2 separate regions of the Homo sapiens genome follow, and region 2 is linked to region 1. The links come from fine-mapping of genetic effects on gene expression. Tissue or cell type: whole blood. Region 1 holds a variant in brackets; the other region holds the start of a gene. All regions are shown on one strand. Distances are between the middles of the regions.

Region 1 (8,105 bases):
AACCTATATATCAATTTGGAGAGAATATCTTTCCTATGCTGAGTCTTCAAATCCATGAACATAGTATGTCTCTGCATTTATTTAGATTTTACTTGATTCCTCTAATCATCATTTTGTCATTTTTAGCATATAAGTCCTGTACATATCTAATGTCTTATTAAATTTAATTCTTTGTATTTCTTTTTTTGAACAATTGTAAATGTCATTGTATTTATAATTTCAGTGTTCCTATGTTCATTGCTAATTTATAAAAACACAGTTGATTTTTATATGTATATCTGGTATCCTGCAACCTTGCTGAACTCATTTATTAGTTTTAGAAATTTTTTTGAAGATTCTTTGGGATTTTGTTGTTGTAGATGTTGATGTGGCAAATAGGCTCAGTTTAATTTCTTCCTTTCTGATGTGTATGCCTTTTATTCCCTTTTCTACCTTATTGCACTGGCTAGAACTTCCAGCACTATGTTGAATAAGAGTGGTGAGAGCAGATATCCTGCCTTGTTCCCGGTCTTAGGGGGGTAAGTATTCAGTCTTTCACAATTAAGAATAATATTAGCTGTACAGTTTTTGTTGTTATTGTTTGGTTGGTTTTTGCCGGTTTGTTTTTTGTAGATGCTTTTTAACATGTTGAAGAAGTTCTCTTCCATTTCTATTTCTGGGAGTTTTTTAATTTCTGGGTGCTGATGTTTGTGAAATGTGTTTTTTTTAAATCAGTTAATATGATCATGTGATTTTTCTTCTTTAGCCATTTAATATGGATAGATTACATTGATTTTTTTTTTTTTTAATATTAAGCCAGCCCCGCATCTCTTGAATAAACCTTACTTGGTCATGGTGTTGTAAAATTCTATTTACATATTGCCAAATTCTACTTGCTAATATTTTGTTAAGAATTTTTCTGTCTGTATTTGCCAGACACTGTCTTTATCTGGTTTTGCTATCAAGGTCGCATTGGCTTCAAAAAATGCCTTGAGAAATGTTCCCTCCCATTCTCTGCAAAAGATTGTCAAGGATTTGTGCTCATTCTTATTTAAACTTTTGGTAGAATTCTCTGGTAAAAGCCTCTTGGCCTGGAGCTTTCTTTTTTGTGAATTTTTAAATGACTAATTCAGTTTCTTTGATAGTTATAAAACTGTTCACATTATCTATTTTATATTGGGTGAGTTTTTGTAGTTTGTGTTTTTTGAGGAATTGGTCTGTTTTATTTATGTTACTAAATTTATGTCTGTATATGTGTGTATACCCTTCTTATCCTTTTGATGTCTGCAGTGTCTGTAGTGATCTCTCCTATTTAATTGTTGATATAGGTAATTTGTGTCTTCTCTTTTTTTTTTTTTTTTTTTTTTTTTGTCATTCTTCCTAGAGATTTGTCAGTGTTACTGATCATTTCAAAGAAAAGACTCAGCTTTTTGTTTCATTGATTTTTCTCTATTGTTTTCCTATTCTCAATTTAACTGGTTTCTGTTCTTTAATTTTTAACTTGCCCTTTTTCTGGGTTCTTGATGTAGGAGTTTAGATTATTGATTTGAGATTTTTTATTTTCTTATGTGTGCGTTTAGTACCATGAATTGCCCACTCAGCACTACTTTACCTATGTCTCTCAAATTTTGATATGTTGTATTTTCATTTTCTTTTTTTTTTATTTTGAGATGGCGTTTCGCGTGTGTCACCCAGGCTGGAGTGCAGTGGCACAATCTCAGCTCACTGCAACCTCCACCTCCCGGGTTCAGTCAATTCTCCTGCCTCAGCCTCCCGAGTAGCTGGGATTACAGGCACCTGCCACCACACCCAGCTAATTTTTGTGTTTTTAGTAGAGACGGGGTTTTACCTAGTTGGCTAGGCTGGTCTCAAACTCCTAACCTCATGTGATCCACCCGCCTCGGCCTCCCAAAGTGCTGAGATTACAGGCGTGAGCCATCCCGTCCAGCCCTTTTTTTTTTTTAAACTGAGACGGAGTCTCACTCTGTCGCCCACGTTGGAGTGCAGTGGCGCGATCTCGGCTCACTGCAATCTCCGCCGCCAGGATTCAAGCGATCCTCGTGCCTTAGCCTCTTGAGTAACTGGGACTACAGGTGCGTGCCACCACGCCCGACTAATTTTTTTGTATTTTTAGTAGAGATGGGGTTTCACCATGTTGGCCAGTCTGGTCTTGAACTCCTGACCTCAGGTGATCTGCCCGCCTCGGCCCTCCACAGTGCTGGGATTATAAGCGTTAGCCACCACACCCAGCCTGTATTTTCATTTTCAATCAATTCAGTGTATTTTTAAAAATTTCTTTTAAGACCTCTTTTTGACTTATAGATTATTTAGTAGTGTGTTGATTAGTTTCTAAGTGTTTGGATATTTTCTTGCTACCCTTCTGTTATAAATGTCTAGTTTGATTCAACTATGTCCAGTAACACACTCTATATGACTTCGATTTTTGAAAGGTTGTTTGAGATTTGTTTTATGACCAGGAATGTGGTCTGTCCTGGTGTAGGTGCCATGGGTATTTGAAAAGAATGTATATTTTGCTGTTGCTAGGTAGAGTGCTCTATATATTTTGAGTAGATCCTGTTGTCTAATTGTGTTGTTGAATTTTTCTTTATCCTTGCTGGTTTTCTATCTAGTTGTTTCATCAGCTGTTGGGAGAAGGTTTTGAAGTATTTGAGTATAATTATAGATTTCTTTATATCTCCTTTCAGTTCAGTCAGTTTTTCCTTCACATGTTTTGCAGCTCTGTTGTTTTGTGCATGCACATTTAGGATTGCTATGTATTTTTAGTGGGTTGACCATTTTATCATTAGGTAATGTTTCTTTCTCTCTCTGGTAATTTTATTTTCTGTGAAATCTGCTTTGATGTTAATATAGCCACTCCTGCTTTCTTTTGATTAATGCTTGCATTACATATCTTTTTCCATCCTTTTCAACATGCATGTATCATTATTTTTAAAGTGAGTTTCAGGTAGACAGCATATTATTGGGTGATGTTTTTTAATTCATTCTGCCAGTCTCTGTGTTTTAATTGGCATATTTAAATCATTTATACTTAAGCTTGCCATTTTAAACTTTGTTTTCTATTTGTTTTCACTATTTTTGTTTCTGTTACTTGAGTAATTTTTTGAAGTCCTTTTTGATTTTTTGTAGTGTTTTGAGTGTATGTCTTTGTATAGTTTTCTTACTGATTGCTGTAGGCATTGTATTATATATGCAGTCTACTAGTATACTTTACCAGTTCAGACTAGAAATGTTACCTCCTTTTATGTCCCTTTATCCTCCCTTATTTTTAATATGCTCATCTTAAATATTTCCTCTGAATACATTTAGAACCGGGTTGGACAATTATAATTTTTCTTCAACCACTGAATATAATTTAGAAAACTCAAGAGAAGGAAGTTTATTGTATTTACCCTTATATTTGTTTACCATGTTGTTTCTTCCTTCTTGATGTTCCAAGGTTCCTTTTCTTATCATTTCCCTTCTGTTAAGACAGCTTCCTTTAGTCACTCTTCAAGAGTAGGTCTGCTAGCAATAAATTCCCGTTGTTTTCCTTCATGTGAGGCTGTCTTGATTTCCTGTTTCATTCCTGAAGGGTATTTTTGCTGGATGTAGGATTTTGGGTTGATGGCTCTTTTCTTTCAGCACTTGAAAAATGTGTTCCTTCCTTTTGGCCTCCATTGTTTCTGATGAGAAATCTGTGTCTTTCATATTATTTCCCCCAATGGTATCTCCTTAGTTGCTTTCAAGATTTTTTAGTGTTGTTTTAACTCAATTACCTCTGCAAAGAAAAAAAAAGATTTTGTTGTTGTTGTTTTAGTTTTCAGAAGTTTGACTACGATGTGTCTTGTTGTAGATTTCTTTGGGTTTATTCTCTTTGGAGTTTGTTCAGCTTCTTAAATCTGTA[C/A]ACTTATGTACAGATTCCTCAGCTTGCCGAGTAGCTGGGATTACAGGTGCCCACCACCATGCCTGGATAATTTTTGTATTTTTAGTAGAGACAGGGTTTCACCATGTTTGCCAGGCTTGTCTCGAACTCCTGACCTGAAGAGATCCATCCACCTTGGCCTCCCAAAGTGCTGGGATTACAGGTGTGAGTCACCGTGCCTGGCCCTAGTTCACTTATGCTTTCCCCTTTCTTCTCCATTCTGCTGTTGAGCCCATCGCTTAGTTTTAGTTTTTTTATTTCAATTATTGTGTTTTTCAGTTCTATAATTTCCATTTTGTTCCTCTTTATATCTTCTGTTTCTTTGCTGAGAATTTCAGTGTTTTCACTTGTTTCAAGCATGTTCATAAATGCTTGCTTAAACAATTTGATGACGGCTACTTTAAAATCTTTGTCAGATAATTTTAACATTTTTGTCATTGACATTAGCATCTGTTAATTATCATTTCTCATTTGATTTGTGATCTTCCTAGTCTTGGTACGATGAGTAATTTTTAGTTGAAACCTGGACATTTTGTGTATTATGTTATGAGACTCTGGATTTTTTTTAAACCTGATGTGTTAACTGGCTTCCTTTGACAGCACTCTGACAGTGAAACGGTGGGTTGTAATGCTGCTTCATTAATGCCAGGTAAAGGTAGAAGTCCAGGTTCCCTATTTAGCCTTTATTGACATGGGGGGCGGGGACGGGGCAGGAATGGGAGTTCCAGCTCTCAACTAGGCTTTCACTGATACCTCTTTGGCTGGAAAAGGTAGGAGTGCTTGTTGCCACTTGGTGGTGGTAAAATCCCGATTCTTCACGAGATCCTCCTCTGTCATCACCCCATTGAGGAGGAGTATAGTCACTTTGTTACTGCTGGATAGGGGTAGAAGTCAGGGTCCACATGTAGTCTCTACTGATATCACTGAGGTGGAGCCTCATTTTCACCATGTTGTGTAAAAATTCCAGCTGGCCAACATGGTGAAACTCTGTCTCTACTAAAAATACAAAAATTAGCTGGGCATGGTGGTGGGCGCCTGTAGTCCCAGCTACTCGGGAGGCTGAGGCAGGACAATCGCTTGAACCTGGAAGGCGGAGGTTGCAGTGAGCCAAGATCACACCACTGCACTCCAGCCTGGTGACAGAGCAAGACGCCATCTCAAAAAAAAAAAAAAAACAGATTTCAGCTTCCTACTTGGCCTTTTCTAACACTATCCCAGCAAGATGGCTGGGGGGCATCTCGTTACATCCTGGCAAGAGTGAAAATCTAGGCTCTGCCTTCAGCCTTTGCTGGCATGTCTATAGGGGTGTGGCCATAGTTTTTTCTGGGTTGTTTAGCTGAAGTAGGGCAATTCTTGTTTAAAAGCTTTCAGTCTTGTTAACTACTCCTTTTGTCATCCTTTGGCTAGAGAGAACACGTTCATTAGGGCTTTTTTTTTTTTTTGTCTTCACCTGTTGACATTCTTGTTTGCCAACTTTGCCAGCTCTAAGTCTGGGATATAGGAGACAAAAACAAAGCCCAGAGAACTCGTTAACATGTGGTTCCTTGGGTCCCCAGGTCCCTAGTTAGTGTGCTACCTTCTGTCCAACTTAATGTCCATGGTTTTTAGTTATATTTAGCTGGATAAATAGGGAAATGTATGTCTATGCCATCTTTCTGGAGTCAGAAGTCTACCTGACTGTCTTTTAATGGAGATACAGACAGTGATTCCATTATCTTTTATTGTTGCATTTTAGTTAATAATGAAAACTAACATTTCTCAAGTACACAGTATGTGCCCAGGTACTGTTCTAAGTGCTTTAAGTGCTTTTCGTGTGTTGAGTCATTTAATTCCCTTAAAACTTTATGAAATAGTTACTAGTATTATTCTGTCTTATCAGATGAGGAAACCGAGACATAGAAAAGATAAGAAACAAGCCCCAAATTACTGACAAATCCGTGGTTAAACCCCTGGCTCTCTGACTCCATAAGCCCACTCTAATACTCATGGCCTAGGATAAATCTCAAATCTATATGCTTTCCATTATAACAACTTTTTTTTTTTGGAAACTTATCACAGTTTTTCTATCCTAGAATTCAGAAATTTTACTAGGATCTGTCCAAATATAGGTCTTATTTTTAAAATAATTCTCTCTAGAACCCAGTGTATCCATTTCATCAGAAAGCTTAGGTCTTTCTACTGATCAGTGACATGTTTTTAAAATTTTTAATCTTTCCTCTCATCCACCCACTCAAGAAAAGATTTTGCAGAAGGTGTTTCATGTGGTCATAAAGATACTCAATAAATAACAAAGAAGTTAGTTCCTTCTAATATGTCAAAAGCTTTCTCTTTTAGAGATAGTCTTGCTTTGTCACCCAGGCTGGAGCGTAGCAGTGATATCATAGCTCACTGTAACCTTGAATTCCTGGGCTCAAGTGATCCTCCCATCTTAGCCTCCAGAGTAACTAGTACTACAAGCACATGCCACCATGCCCAACTAATTTTTTAATTTTTATTTTTATTTGTACAGGTGGGGTCTCCCTGTGTCTCCCAGGCTGGTCTCAAATCCCTGGCCTCGAGCAGTCCTCCCACCTCAGCCTCCCAAAGTACTGGGGTTACAGGCATGTACCACTGCACCCAGCCCCTTTCTGAGCATTTTTTTTTTCCTTTGAGATGGAGTCTTGCTCTGTCCCAGGCTGGAGTGCAATGGTGCGATCTCAGCTCACTGCAACCTCTGCCTCCCAGGTTGAAGCTAATCTGCCTCAGCTTCCTGAGAAGCTGGGATTACAGGCGCACGCCACCAGGCCCATCTAATTTTTGTATTTTTTAGTAGAGACGGGGTTTCACCACATTAGCCAGGCAGGTCTCGAACTCCTGACCTCGTGATCTGCCCACCTGGGCCTCCCAAAGTGCTGGGATTACAGGCGTGAGCCACCGCACCCAGCCACCTGTTACATTTTTTATTCTTTCTTTCTTTTTTTTTTTTTTTTTTTTTTGTTGCCAGGCTGGAGTGCAGTGGCGCAATCTCGGCTCACTGCAACTTCCGACTCCATGGTTCAAGGGATTCTCCTGCCTCAGCCTCCCGAGTAGCTGGGATTACAGGCATGCGTCACCACGCTCAGCTAATTTTTGTATTTTTATAGAGACAGAGTTTCACCATATTGGCCAAGATGGTCTCGATCTCCTGACCTCGTGATCTGCCCGCCTCAGCCTCCCAAAGTGCTGGGATTACAGGCATGAGCCACTGCACCCGGCACTTCTGAGCATTTTTGAAGCAAAACTAGAATATTGACTCCTGGGAAGATGATATGGTATTGTCCAGGGAACAGGAACTGGTCTAAGAAGAATGTGGCTACCAAGCATGCTTTGAGGAATGCTACTGCAGCCCCATTTAGCTGTGGTGTATTGTGTTAAACTCAGGTCATGTAGGCATCCAAATCTCAAGTAATCTGTCCCTCTTAGAACTTCTTGGTTCTAAGATTGCTGATAAAATACTCAAATCTTCTTGTCTTTTTTTTTTGTTTTGGTTTGATTTTAATAAACTGACTGGGTGGTTTGAAATTTAGGCTGAGGCTAGAGATTTCAAGAACTGAATTTACATAAGGGGAAAAAAAGGCTTTCACGTGAATGAAGTTGGAAATGCCAAGTAAGCTACAACAGTGTACTGTATGTTCTATTTCTCCTCTTCACTCCCACAAGGAGCAATTACTAAATAACTTATATTTGTAAGACTTCAATAGCAAAGAATGCATATTACTAAGATGATATGTAGCCTTTTATCAATTTATTTTAAAAGATTAATACTTCTGGTGAAAATACATTATGATAAAAATTTTGTAAAAACTAATGTGTCACTGGATCAGGATTAACATCTTGGAATACTCTACCATCTACTTAAAATTGTTGGGCCAACATATCAATTGTAGTGAAGCCATTTTATTTACTAAAACAAAGAGAGAAAAATTCCTAAAATATATTCGCATCAACATATCTTCTACCAGCCTGGATCCCTCTGGTAATTGGGATTTATTAAAAGGCCCTGCCAGGTAGTGAGGACTCACAAAAGTCTCAACATCCAGCCCCCAGCAGCACTAAGGCAGATGTCTCTTCCCTCTGATGACAGTGCTACTACCTCTACTGCTGTGTGTGTCTGAGTCTTTGTACAGAATGCTACAAGAATTGTACCAATTTCAAGAACTCTGCAGGGCAACATTCCCACACCACT
Region 2 (8,103 bases), 82 kb after region 1:
AATGGTAGCTACATTACCATCATTAGCGTCTTGGTTTCCATCATTTTAAAATCAATCTTTATTTGGTATTTCTTTCAGCCCTGCGAGACATACCCCCCTCCCCACCTGATGCAAAACTTTTGAAGAACTTAAATATACACATGCCTAGCCTCATCGCTAGGGATTCTGATGCAGTAAGTCTGGGACAAGGGCCGGTTTGGGAACTACACTGCTCTAGGAAACGCGTGACAGAACACGACTACAACCAGGACCACAAGAATGCCTAAGATAACCTGAATAGCTCCTTCGACTTTCAAATGACAACTAGTATCTATCTGCACCTTTAGACAAGTAGTGCGGTATCAGAGTAAGGCTTTTTTTTTTTTTTTTTTGAGACAGAGTCGCTCTGTCGCCCAGGCTGGAGTGCAGTGGCGCGATCTTCGATCACTGCAACCTCTGCCTCCCGGGTTCAAGCAATTATCTGCCTCAGCCTCCCGAGTAGCTGCGACTACGGGCACGCGTCACCACACCCGGCTAATTTTTTTGTATTTTTAGTAGAGATAGGGTTTCACCAGAAAGGTGGCACCATTCCATACCCAAACCTCCCAACAATAAATAAAAAAGATTTAGTCTTAGTTGAATTCTCTCAGAGATAAGACTGAAGTATACTCTAGGAGGGTTCGGCAGTCAACAAGCTGCTTCTCCTTTTTTTTTGTTTTTTTTTTGAGGAGTCTCACTGTATCATACAGGCTGCAGTGCACTGGCACAATTTCGGCTCACTGCAACCTCCACCTCCCAGGTTCAAATGTTTCTCCCACCTCAGCCTCCTGAGTAGCTGGGATTACAGGCATGCACCACCACGCCCAGCTAATTTTTGTATTTTTTAGTAGAGACGGGGTTTCAACATGCTGGCCAGGCTGGTCTCTGGTCTCGAACTCCTGACCTCAGGTGATCCACCCGCCTTGGCCTCCCAAAGTGCTGGGATTACAGGCATGAGCCACTGCGCCCAGCCTGCTTCTCCACCTAACAGGGGCACCCCTAGATAGTACAGAAGAAACAAATGGAAGGAAGAACAATCAGTATCCTGTTCATTCCTTTAGCAGGTCTTATACTGGAAAGATGGGTTTTCATGATTTATCAGCCAGAGAAGATAATGAAGGGAATCACGACAAACATCAAACATCAAAACAAAATATAAATCCTATAGCATGAATATGTGTCTACTTAGTTCCCTAAAATAAGTTTCAAAACTACCTTAATATAATTCTCCCCACCCAGTGTAAACCGGTTTTTCTGAGTGTGGTCTTTGAGTCACCTGTATTTGAATATGAGGAGCTTAACTGGGCCCACTGAATCTGCACTTTTACCAGGTCATTCTCATGCTCAATATTTGGAAGTACTTCCACAGTATCTAAAAATTTTCGCCTCAAGTAAGTCAGTCTTGAACACAAAAGATCAAACTTATGCTTGGTCTTAGAGCAATGAAGAAATAACTAACAGAACGTAAATAATTCAGAAAAACACAGTGGTCCACCGCAAAAGCTATGAAGCTAGCAATTCTGAGTTTACATTTCTATTTCACAACGCACTAGCCATTTGACCGGGCAAACGTGTCCCAGTTTTCTCATCTGTAAAATGGAATACTACCACCTACCTCAGAGCCACGAGGCTAATGAGTTACCAAAGCTCTTAGTAGACGACTGCCAGGTCGGGCACAATGGCTCCCGTCTATATCCCAGCACTTTGGGAGGCCGAAGTGGGAAGATCGCTTGAGACCAGGAGGAATTCAAGACCAGCCTGGGCAACATAAGAGATCCCATCTCTATTTAAAAAAATAAAAATTGAAAAATTAGCCTGGCATAGTGGCACGTGCCTTTAGTCCCAGCAATGCAGGAGGTTGAAGCAGGAGGATGGCTTGAGCCCAGGAGGTTAAGGCCACAATGAGCCATGATCATGCCACTGCACTTCAGCCTGGGCAACAGAACAAGACGCTGTCTCAAAGTAAAAAACAAAAAACAAACCAAAAAAACCCTTGTGGCTAATGGCTATACTCTTATTTGCTGAATCTTTGGAATTTACATCCATTTCCAACGATGTAATACAAAACCATGAAGGATCTCATATTTTGCATTGCTTCAAACTCAGGTGCTTCTCAAATAAAACAAAACTAGGTGACTGACTCTGAAAATGGCACAGGTTAAGAATCTGTTTTCCAAATCTGTTGCAAGAAGATGGAAAAAGACAAAAGAACTGAAAACTCCCAAACTTTTCACAGCAAAATAGAACTACATTTAATCATCCATATCAGAGAAGATTCAAAAAAGCAGTTGGGTGACTGGGCTAAGGTAGAAGACTATTCAATAAAAATCTCACATCTTGCCATTTTCCCTCCCTCTCACAATCTGCATTTAAACAAGTCAATTTCCTGAAATAGGAATCTGGCAACACCCACCAAAAAGTCCAACCATATGTAAAATGGCATCACACTGTAAAGCTCATATTACAGTATCAGGACAATTGATACTTTCAACAGCAGCAATGGCTGCCAGGCAGCGGTCCTGAATTGAAGACTTGTAAAGGGGAGAAAATACACAACACAGAAAAAGAAACCTAATAAAATGGGGAAACGGATTCTCTGGGAGGAGCGTATGCAACTCCCAAGGCAAAATTCAGAAAGATGTTGTTTCCCCTCAAAACAAAGAGCCTTAATGCCCAGAATGCCACAGTTCTGAATCGTGAGTACCTGCAAATAGACAGAAGGAAAACGGAGGGGATATGTGGGTGAGAGATGACCTGGATTCTCACGAGAAGAAGGGCAGCCACCTTAGAGGTGCACGGAATACAGTTTCAGGCCTGGTGCAACTCAAGGGGCAGTTCACCATTTTCCAGTAAGCCCGAAATTGACGAATAAAAGGGACTTAAAGTATTAGAGAGCAGCTCTTTGGAAACCCACGGAAAACAAACATTGGGGATTCAAAGGATTTGGGAGGAAAGGAGGTGGAAATGAGTCAAAAGAAGCCTTCTCGAGGATAAAATCATGTGACCCTCAGGAAGAGAATGCCCAAGGAGCTAAGAAAAGGGAGGACAGGTCCTGGGGAAAAGCCCTCCACTCCAACAAGCGGGAAGTGCATACCAATGGGTGCGGGGGGGCCCCCGAAGGTACCGCTTTCGGAGCACCCGAGGCCTCCAGCCGGATGTCAGGCCACGCACCAACGAGGGACCACCGTGCGGGGACAGTGTCCGCGCGCGGGAAAAACGGCGGCGGGGCCGGAAGGGGACAGGGTGGGCCGGAAGGGGGGGCAGGGCGGGCCGGGAGGGCGCCCCACGGAACACTTACGCGGCCGCTTTTTCCTCAGGCTTTCGACGCGCTGGCGGGAGACCGAGGTGGGGCCGCTGTAAGAGCCCAGTCGATCCCGCCTCGTGCCCTCAGCCGAGGCCCCGACCGCGGGCACCGACGCGCTGCTCGCCCGGCGCCGCAGTGGCTCCTGCCGCCGCCCTTCGGGGTCCCCGGCCGCCTGCTCCCCAGCCGACGAGACGGAGGTGGCGGAAGCCCTGCCGTGGCGCTCCATGGGCGCGCCGAGCCGGCCCCCTCCCATCCGCAGCAGCAGTCGCTGCCGCCCGAGCAAGCCCCCCAGCGTCGGATTCCTTCTCGCCTCCTCCGCGGCAGTCCAGCCAGAGCAGAGGCGCGCCCTCGGCCGGCCGCCTCTTCCGTTGCGCCAACGCGCAGGAAGCCAATCCGACGAGGCTGGGGACGGCCCAAAGGCCTCGCGTCCAGTCGGCTCCCTAACTCGAGGAGGATTGACCGTGCCTCCGTCCAATGAGAGGCTATCGTGACGGGGCGGGGAGAGGGTGGTGGAGGAGGGGATCCGGGTTCCGCGGAGGAAGAGAAGGCGGTGTAGCCCAGAAGAGAGTGATGGCGGCGCCGCCCAATGGACGCGTGGGTGGAAGGGCCCGAGCCTCCTCATCCACCCCCTCCTTCCGCCCCCCACTTGTGCATGCCTCTGCCCCCCCGGGCCGCGGAACTCTCCTGGGGCGACCCCGAGTCCCACCCCGCTGCTCCGTGCCGTCCTCGCAGCTCGAGCCCTCCTCCAGCCCAGCAGTGCTCCCGCAGCGTCTGGCCGCTGGTCGTCGGCAGACGAAAGGGCTTGAACCGCGGCTGACCTTAGCCTTTGTCCCTCGGCCTAGTTCCGCAGCTGCCGTCGAGGCCGCCAGCCCCTCCCCCAGCATGTTTGGGCTAAGCCGCCTCCTTTCCGCCTGCGTTGGAGAGAGAGGTACCAGAAGGAATGAAAGGACTGGGGCTTGTCTCCATGGCAACTGAAAGAAAGAGGTGGGTTATAAATCCTTCGCCACCCTCCTGTGGCGAAGGAGGGGAAGTGGGAGCCGGGAAGTAGAGTTGGCCTTTTGCAGGAGAGTCTGGAGCCCCTTTCTGGGTGATGCATTGGGGGCCATAGAAGGATTTGGCTGCCGCTTTGGAGCATGGATTTTTTTTTTAATCATCTTCCTTTCTCTTTTGGAGAGAAAAATTGGTCACCTCCAGGACTGAGACCCTGACCCTTCCAAGCATCCCCACTACCAAAGGCTGCCCAAGCCCGGAAGGATCCCATCCCGTTCTGTACTCTGAGGTCACTTCCTCACTCCGTCAAATTTCACTGGACTGTGGGCTAATTAAAAGTGCCTCCGTATTAGCGGGGCGTGGTGGCCCATGCCTATAATCCCAGCTACTTGGGAAGCTGAGGCAGGAAAATTGCTTGAACCCGGGTGGCGGAGGCTGCAGTGACCCAACATTGTGCAACAAGAGCGAAACTCCGTCTCAAAAAAAATAAAAAATAAAAAAGAGTGCCTCCCTGGGGAGACTGTAATGCCCACTGGGCAGTGATCCTAATGCCCCTTGGGCAGTGATCCTTATTCCCCTCTCCCATAATGATTGGTTGTAGCAGGCTGAACAAAAAGGTTGAGCTTCGCTTGTGCTTGCTGAATAGAATTCTCACGCCCACTCCACGTTAGCTCCCCTCACTGTAGGACTAGCTCTGAAAATTCTAGCTCCTGTAGGAAGCCAACACAGACGGATCTACAAGAACCAAAAACAGCTATAGCTACTCTTCTAAATCTCAGTGCCTGACATTGCCTCTCTTTCTGCCTCCTCTCTCCACCCCCCAAAAAATGTGGTCCTCCTTGACCTGAGGGAGCTTCCGTCCAAGTCTGAGCTCTGATCATCCTGAAGAATCAAAGTATCATCATCCCTTGGCTGGCAAGATGAACTCCAACATCAAAACACTTGAAACAGTAGTATTTTTACACAATTTGCCCACTGCCTCTACATCTCACTTAGTCCTTGCAGTAACATTTGGATGATGAGGTAACTTATCCAGAAGCACAAAGCCTAAAGAATGACAGAGCTTGGACTCCTGAGAAGTTCAGCTACTGCCCGCCTTATGATAACCAAAAGAAAGCGGCCGGGCGCAGTGGCTCAACTCCTGTAATCCCAGCACTTTGGGAGGCCGAGGCGTGCGAATCACAAGGTCAGGAGTCCGAGACCAGCCTGGCCAACACAGGGAAACCCCGTCTCTACTAAAAAAAACAAACACAAAAATTAGTTGGGCGTGGTGGTGGGCACCTGTAATCCCAGCTACTTGGGAGGCTGAGGCAGGAGAGTCACTTGAATCCGGTAGGCGGAGGTTGCAGTGAGCCGAGATCGTGCCACTGCACTCCAGCCTGGGAGACAGTGAGACTCCGTCTCTAAAAAAAAATGAATAAATAAATAAGAAGGCACACCACAAGTTCGAGACCACTTCTACAAAAAATAAAAAATAAAAAAAATTAGGCCAGGCACAGTGGCTCATGCCTGTAATCCAAGCACTTTGGGAGGCTGAGGCGGGCGGATCACTGGAGGTCAGGAGTTTCAGACCAGCCTGGCCCAACATGGTGAAACCCTGTCTCTACTAAAAATACAAAACTTAGCTGGGCGTAGTGGTGCGTGCCTGTAATCCCACTTACTCCAGAAGCTGAGGCAGAAGAACTGCTTGAACCTGGGATGCAGAGGTTGCAGTGAGCTGAGATTGCACCACTGCACTCCAGCCTGGGCAACAGAGTGGGACTCTGCCTCAAAAAAAAAAAAAAAAAGAAAATGAAGATGACCAAATGGGCTTCTAGATGGCTAATGATATTCTGTTTCTTTGATCTGGGTGGGGGTTACATGGGTGTGTTCCCTTTGTAATATGTTATCAAGACATTTTGTGCACTTTTTTGGGTATTATACTGAAAGAAAACATTTATTTTTTAAAAAGTTGAAAAATTGCCTTGGAGCAGAGTAAGGTAAATCTATGATTAAGCTTAGATTTTTTTATTTTTTATTTTTTATTTTTTTTCAAAAAAAATGAGGCCAGGCGCGGTGGCTCACGCCTGTAATCCCAGCACGTTGGGAGGCCGAGGTGGGCAGATCACGAGGTCAGGAGGTCGAGACCATCCTGGCTAACACGGTGAAATCCCATCTCTACTAAAAATACAAAAAATTAGCCAGGCATGGTGGCAGGCACCTGTAGTCCCAGCTACTCGGGAGGCTGAGGCAGGAGAATGGCATGAACCTGGGAGGCAGAGCTTGCAGTGAGCCAAGGTCACGCCACTGCACTCCAGCCTGGGTGACAGAGCAAGACTCGTCTCAAAAAAAAAAAAAAAAGTAAAATGAACCTAACAAGAGGCATCCTTTCTCTGTGGTTATTATAGTGAGAACTAAGTTCTTTATCACTCTCCGGTTATTTACCCCTAGAGAGAAGCCAACTTTCTGGTTGTATACACCAGAATAAGTACAAGAATGGTAAGCATAGAGCTTCAGAGAAACTAGCCAGATTCTAAAGGAATGACTTGAAAATCGAGAGCCGTTTCAATGACAAAACATCATACAAAATATTCATCTACCACATTAGAGGCCTATCGCTAGGTAAAAACACCAAAACTTCAGCTTAAACAGTAGTATGTATGTATGTATTATCCCAGTTTCTGTGAGTCAGGAATTCAGGATTGATAAGCTGGGTGGTTCTTGTTCAGAATCTTTCAAGAGGTTGCAGTCCTCTGAAAGTGTAGTGGGTTGGGGTATCCACTTCCAAGGTGGCTTGCTCATATGGCTGGCAAGTTGGTGCTGGCTGTTGGCAGGAGGCCTCAGCTCACAATGCAGGCTTTCATAGGACTACGTGAGTGTCCTTTCAACATGGCAGCAGGCCTTCCCTAGAGCTAGTGAAGGATGAGAAAACGACAAATCGCAATGTCTTTTATGACCTAGGCTGGGAAGTTATACTCCATCATTTATGCAATATCCTGTTATCACACAGGTCATCCCTATTCAGTGTAGGTTGGTACTACACAAGGACATGAATATCAGGAGGAAGAGAATCTCTGGAGGCCATCTTGGAGCCCATAGTCCGCCTTCTGCCCCCTAATGATTCACGTCTTCGTCTGTTCCTGCTCTCTAAGAGCCAGGAGGCAGACTTCCCTTGAGCTTTCTTGCAGCTAAAGTAGAGCATCATTAGCAGTAAAAATTAAGATATCATCACAAAGGCCAGGCACAGTGGCTCACGCCTGTAATCCCAACACTTTGGGAGGCCAAGGTGGGCGGATCACCTGAGGTCAGGAGTTCGAGACATGCCTGGCCAACATGGTGAAACCCTGTCTTCACTAAAAATACAAAAATTAACCTGGTGTGTTGGCGGGCACCTCTAATCCCAGCTACTTAGGAGGCTGAGCCAGGAGAATCACTTGAAACCAGAGGCGGACGTTGTAGTGAGCCAAGATGGCACCACTGAACTTGAGCCTGGGTGACAGAGCAAGACTCCATCTCAAAAAAAAAAAAAAAAAAGACATCACAAGATTGCCAGGCACAGAGGCTTAAACACCAAGTTCTTTCTCATGTCATCGTGTTTCGTCGGTGCCGAGGACATGAGGGGTGTAGATCAGGCCTGTTTCAAACACAAGGCCTTTTGGCCAGAGTGTAATGGTGTGAGGACTTGGGAAGACCTTACCTACTTAACTGTCTCTCTCAAAGGACAAAGGTATGAGGGGGTTAAAAAAAAAAAAAAAAAGGCAAAGCTATGAAGAACATGAAGTTCTTAAGCCCCTAGACACTCTTCCAAGGTC

The links. PIP is the estimated chance that this variant, and not a neighbour inherited with it, causes the effect.
Region 2: it holds the start of PANK2, and the variant in region 1 is fine-mapped to the expression of PANK2 in whole blood (TOPMed, PIP above 0.99). The same link has a PIP of 0.9 or more in blood mononuclear cells.

Annotation. Positions count from the first base shown.
Region 1 is chr20:3,966,745-3,974,849 of GRCh38, reverse strand. All of the region lies in intron 1 of RNF24 (ring finger protein 24), which reads left to right. Among named protein-coding and RNA genes, the nearest start is that of RNF24, 45 kb to the left of the region's middle. The variant C/A (reference allele first, on the strand shown) is at 3,884.
Region 2 is chr20:3,884,942-3,893,044 of GRCh38, reverse strand. PANK2 (pantothenate kinase 2) reads right to left here and starts at 3,658. Exons shown (of 7, transcript NM_001386393.1): 1 at 3,317-3,658. The coding sequence starts at 3,614. It overlaps PANK2-AS1 (PANK2 antisense RNA 1), which reads left to right and starts at 3,872. Exons shown (of 2, transcript XR_001754478.3): 1 at 3,872-4,306; 2 at 4,496-6,676. RefSeq lists silencers at 3,274-3,773, 3,964-4,023 and an enhancer at 4,032-4,583.